Regions from separate parts of the Homo sapiens genome. Here region 2 is linked to region 1. The links come from fine-mapping of genetic effects on plasma protein levels. Region 1 holds a variant in brackets. A gene starts in the other region. All regions are shown on their forward strands. Region 1 overlaps EXOC2 (exocyst complex component 2). Region 2 holds the start of CD5L (CD5 molecule like).

Evidence for each region. A credible set is the group of variants that fine-mapping cannot tell apart. PIP is the posterior inclusion probability: the model's chance that the variant is causal. Protein levels are from antibody-based Olink assays in UK Biobank. Linkage for the fine-mapping came from a reference panel and not from the study's own genotypes, which makes the PIPs less certain.
Region 2: CD5L starts here. The variant in region 1 is the best candidate, but not a certain one, in a credible set for the plasma level of the CD5L protein (UK Biobank, PIP 0.67).

What each region holds. Positions count from the first base shown.
Region 1 is chr6:483,364-485,863 of GRCh38, forward strand. EXOC2 (exocyst complex component 2) reads right to left here. Exons shown (of 28, transcript NM_018303.6): 28 at 1,791-2,500. Among named protein-coding and RNA genes, the nearest start is that of IRF4, 93 kb to the left of the region's middle. The variant C/G (reference allele first, on the strand shown) is at 1,090.
Region 2 is chr1:157,840,268-157,843,303 of GRCh38, forward strand. It overlaps CD5L (CD5 molecule like), which reads right to left and starts at 1,541. Exons shown (of 6, transcript NM_005894.3): 1 at 1,407-1,541. The coding sequence starts at 1,434.

The DNA of each region.
Region 1 (2,500 bases):
ATAACAACCATGAAAATATCAACAGTGACCACAAGAAGAAAACCAACGGCTTCCAGTCATGGTAAAACACTGTTGAAGGCACAAGACAAGCTTCACTGCCCACTTTGTCTAGGATTTTCTGTGCCTAGACAGGAGAAAGACACTCTGATATCCTACTGCCTTTCATTAGCCAAACTGCAAACAAGTTACCCAAAGACCCAGGTCTTGTCCGTAAGATGTTTATTGCTATATATTTCTAACCTGGCCAGGTACAGAAAGGCTTTCCAGTAATACACGTAATAAACCTCAATGTAATAAATCCTCCTCTGGGGGAGCAGAAATGAGATGAGATCAGCACACAAAAAGCATAATGGCCCTAGTATAGAGTAATATGCAACTGTGTTTAAAGCAAAGCTAAAATAATTATGGCTGCTGCTCTAATTGAGGAGTGATATATTAAATATATCTTTCAGAGCAGTTCACAGATCTATATGAAAATCTTTGCAACAGAACCAACAGATAAATGTTCAGTGACAAAAATGTATGCAAGTTTAGTCTATGCATAATTATTTTATGAATATTACATAAAATATATTTGACTTTTAGAAACCTAATCTTGATTTAAAAACTAGTTAAAATTTGTAACTTTTCTGAAAACATTACACAACACGCTTATGAAACTAACAGAATATCCCATAGCACGTGATCAAAACAGAAATACACACCACCACCTTGTACCAAATCCAGAATAAAAATATAATCTCTTCTATTTCTTCCCTTTAAAAAAATCTACATGCAAAGATGACAAGAGACAGGAGAATGAGTCAGTGTGCTCAGCCTAAGGCAATGATGCTTGTTTTGCAATGCCCAAATCATTTCTAGAATATGCTCTTTCATGGTACACTGATAAAGAAAGTCTTAGTAAAAAACCAAGTGATTTCTAATAGCTCTTTCCCATTCAAGTGAGGCCAGCTCAGCTAACTCACATGAAGCCATGCTGTGACCCACAAAGAACATGGGTGTGCTGGAAATGAAATGCCACTGGAGCACTGAAGTACCTTGAACCTCCCTAATTTGTTTTCTCAGCTGCCTCGTTAACTTGCTCCAGGT[C/G]CTGGTTTCTCTCTCGGCTTTCATCTAACTTATTTCATATTCATCTCCTCTTACCCACTAAACCAGGGTTCTGTAACTCAAGTAGCTCTTGAAATCCCCCTTTCTTCCAAGAAGTCCCCCCTGACTTGTTGGAATAGTAGTCCTTGAACTCCCTCACTTGGGTATGGGGTTTTTAGGCCTTTACCTTCCACTCTGAGCCATAAAAGCACTACCGGTTTCCGTGTTGCTACTGTTTATTAGCCTCTGGAATTGATGAACTTTCTCTGAGCTGTGACCCAGGTGGATGGATGTCAGAAAGCATATTCCGCTGGAAGGAAGAGCTGAGCAGTAGTGAAGTCAAGGACATACAGAGCCAGAGTGTGAACATGAGTCCTGCTACTTACTGCCTTGCAGTCTTACGGAAGTCACCAACCTCTCTCTAAGCCCTGATTCCTTCCTCTGCTAAATGGACGTGGCGGTAAGCTAGCCCACATGTATCATAAGGCTGTTGTGAGGATTCAACGAGGCACTTCATGGTGTGCCTCGCACATGGTAAGTCCCCAGCAAACAGAATTAGCAGGACCTGACAGATGGTTTCTGACAATGTGTTTACCAATACAGGGTTAACCAGAATGTAAGTATTTTGGGTGTTAACAGTAGAAATATGAAAATGTTGAAATAAAGACACTTAGGGAAAAATGTCAAGTAAATTACAACTTACATTAAAGGCAGATTCTTTATTGGCTGAATGTGCTGTAGTAGATATTTAAAATATCACAAACATTCATGATTGCAGTTTTTAAACTTAGCTCACAGTTGAGTTAGATACAACAGTTAACATACTTAGGAAAGACAATTCTTAACAGCTTTATCAAGCACATTTGTGAAAGATTAAACTTTCATTTCCAGTTACCATGATGTCCCCCCATACACCAAATGAACCAACACATTTATTTATTTTAAATAATGGAAACTGTACATGGCTACACTGTGCTCTAAAATTACTTGCATTAATGAGGACATTAATTTTAGCATTTAAAAAAAGAGATTTAAAAATAACCATAGAAAAACTTGAAAACCCTGACAAGCCGACTACAAAGAGAATTCCTCTCTGAAAATTTTCAGATGCGACGGTATGAGGGAGTTGGGTGGGCCGCTGACTCTGAGAGAAGTCCCGGTGACCTGAACCTATTCCAGTGAAGCCAGTCAGCAGTGAATGTGGGGCAAGTGCATGCGGCTGGTCTACAGCTCCCATTGCCTGGTGACCAAGGAGCATCCTGAAGTTTCAGAGAAGAGACTGTGTGACAGCAGCATTGTTCCAGCTACTGAGCAAGATCCTTCAGCAGGTAAGAAGTGGCAGAGACAGTCACCTGCTGAAGGAGCGGGCAGGGAGTTGGCCGTCCACGCGGAGCCTGGCCTTTCCGTTAGGGGA
Region 2 (3,036 bases), not on the chromosome of region 1:
TATATTTGGACTCCTTTCTCCATAAGGTCCCTCCTAATGCTGTAGAGAGTCCTGGGCCCTGTAACCTCCAGGAGTCCCTGAGGCCTATGCATTTTCAACTGCAAAACACCCACCACCCCCATCTTATAGGATTTTTCAGAAGGTGCAAATATCTTTGGACCTCCAGCCTACAGTTTTTCAGGCAGATTCAAGTAGTTCAGTGGTTTATCCTGGAATATTTTCTTTTCTTGGTTTCCAAATAACCTCTCATTACCCTCATTCCCTTAATCTTCAGAATGTGGCCACTCTCAGGCTCAATGAGGCCTTTTCTGCAACTATCCAAAACTCAAGGTTATATTATACATATGGGAATCATTGCATAACCCCAACCCAACATGTGTACATGTGAAGGAAAGTGAGCATGGCAAGCCTGATATGCAGGTGCAAACGTGATATAGCCAGTAAGTGACTTGGAAGCTCTGCAGTAGGGTGGGTAACTGCAGAAGGCACAGGCCAGAAAGGCTTCATGAAGCAGGTGGAAGTGCACATGAGCCTGGAAGACCCAGTAGTATATCCATGAGGGGCAGGACTAGCCGTTGAGTGATGTGGGGGATGCATGGATGTTTAAGATGTGGTCAGTACCTTACATTGAACACAAAAGTGTCCAGTTGAGAGGATTGTGTGGGCTTTGGTGATGTACTAGATCATCAAGACATAAAAGTGGATGTGATTGATTAGCATAGGGATTTACCAGGCATTGTTAGATGCTTTATATTAGTTATCTTATAAAAAAAAATACTCCTAAAAACCTCTGAGGAACATAATATTATCCTCACTTCATAGATGAGAGAGCAAAATTTCAGAGAGGTATGGTAACCTACGAATTCACACCGCTAAGAAATCAAAACGGCAGGATTGAAATCCAGGTCTCCTTGGCTCCACAATCACCAGATTAACTAGGTTAATCTCTAGATTACTCTAAGCAATGAGAAACTGAAGAAAACTAGAAAAACATTATATGAAACACTTTTCAGAGGAAACCAGACAATATGATCAATGAAAGGTGATTGTCTTGCAGTTCTACTTCCTTTCCTGGCTCTACTTGCTGCTGCCCGGTGCCCATTCATTTGTCTTCTTACTAATAGTACATTTAGGAACACTTATGTAAAAAGAGAAATGGGATAAACTATCATGACTCTGTCATTACAAATATAAGAAAATAGAAAAAAATCTGTTAAAGTGAATTACAAATGTGTATGGATTAAGCGGCTTTTTAAGGATTAGAATAGTTACCAAATGTAAAAAGGAGGAAGAAGCTCATCCTTGAAAAACATCTAAATCTGTTCCAGGTTGGCGGGGAGAAAGTTCTCCTAATCAAAGTGCCAGAAAACTCTGAAGCCTAAACCAACAGGTGCAGAGATACTCACCAAGGATCAAGGAGAATAGCAGAGCCATGACCAAGGCAGGTGAAGGTGATGAGCTGAAATTTAAGGCTAGAAGGAGGTCCCCAAGCAGCAATATTTAGTTTTAGCTGCAAGTATGTTAAGAGGAGGGACAAAGACAGGTCCTGAGTGCAGGCAAAGCATTATCAGATGATCAGAAACCAATAGACTCGGGGGGCAGAGCTGACAGAGCTGGACTTGCTGAAATCAGCATGTTCCAGAGGAAAGGAGGTGGCCAGAACTGGCGGAAAAATGCTGAAAACAAAATAGAAACAGGCTATCATGACTTGGTTCTGCTGTAAGTCCAGCTCCGTCTGTCTCTCCTACAGCCCCTTTGCTATGTAAACAGAGGAAACACCTCCCACAAGGAAAGGCAGGTGCCAAAAATATGGCCATCTCTCAGTAGAAGACAAGGCAGTACTTAGTCGCCAAGGATGGTTTGCAAGGGAAATAAGCCAATTTTGATTCCTTTACCCCAGAGGGAAGTGCCTAGAAAATTTGGAAGCCAGAGGCCATGGGATAAATGCAGAGTTGCCCTTGGAGGCATATCCCATAAAACATAATCCAGGGTCATGGTGCCAATCTCCACATACAGGCCTGGCTTTATTGTCTTCAAACCTGCTTTCTCACTGCTAAGCAGAGGGTCCAATATACAGATTTGTTATTTTTCTATGCTTGTGCTGGTGTATGCCCATCTTTGGAAGCTGGATGGAAACAGATCCCTGAGGTGAGGGGCATCATAATCATTGAACTCAAGTTGTCTGTAGGTCTAAGACATGATGGACAGAGATTAAGCAGTAAGACCCTCTCAGGCCCCTCTGCTTTGCTATATTATTAAGTATAGCTATGCTTCATGAGCTATTCTACTCCAGATTGATCAAGCAATCAATTTTGTATGCTGACATAATCTCTGCATTCCAAGCAGGGTAATTGTTCCTCTACAGTAATAATTTTTGCTTCTTTGTAATATTCAGGTAACTCAGCAGAAAGCTTGGTTCATTGTAGGCATTCATTTTTAATCCCACATTTCTTCATTTACTTAGTATTGTATTCAATGAAAAGTTTTTAGCACTCATGAATGCCAGGCAATGTGATGGGTGGAGGCAGTACATGAAGGAACAAGGGATAGTTTTGCACTGTAAAAATATATGGTCTAGTAATTGCAATAACATGTGGAAACCACTGTTAAGAGAGAAAAGTATAACAAACTTTGGAGGCCAGGCGAGGTGGCTCATATCTGTAATCCCAGCACTTTGGGAGGCCGAACTGGGAGGATAGCTTGAGCCCAGGAGTTTGAGGCTGCAGTGAACTATGATCAGGCCACTGAACCTCAGCCTGAGTGACAGAGTGAGATCACATCTCTAAAATAAGAAAAAGAAATGAAACCTTGGAGGAAATGGTTACTATGTTTGGAGCTAATCAGAGAAGACTTCACAGCAATGATGATACTTGAGCAGGGGTTTAGGATGAGTTAAGTGGAGAATCAGAATAGGAAAAGATTTTGCTATGCATATGCAGACAAGTGAAACAGCATTACTTATTCAAGGAACCACAGGTAGTTTGGAATGACTGGATTACAGCCTGCTTAGTGATCAGGGGCCAGGGCTTCTTGATG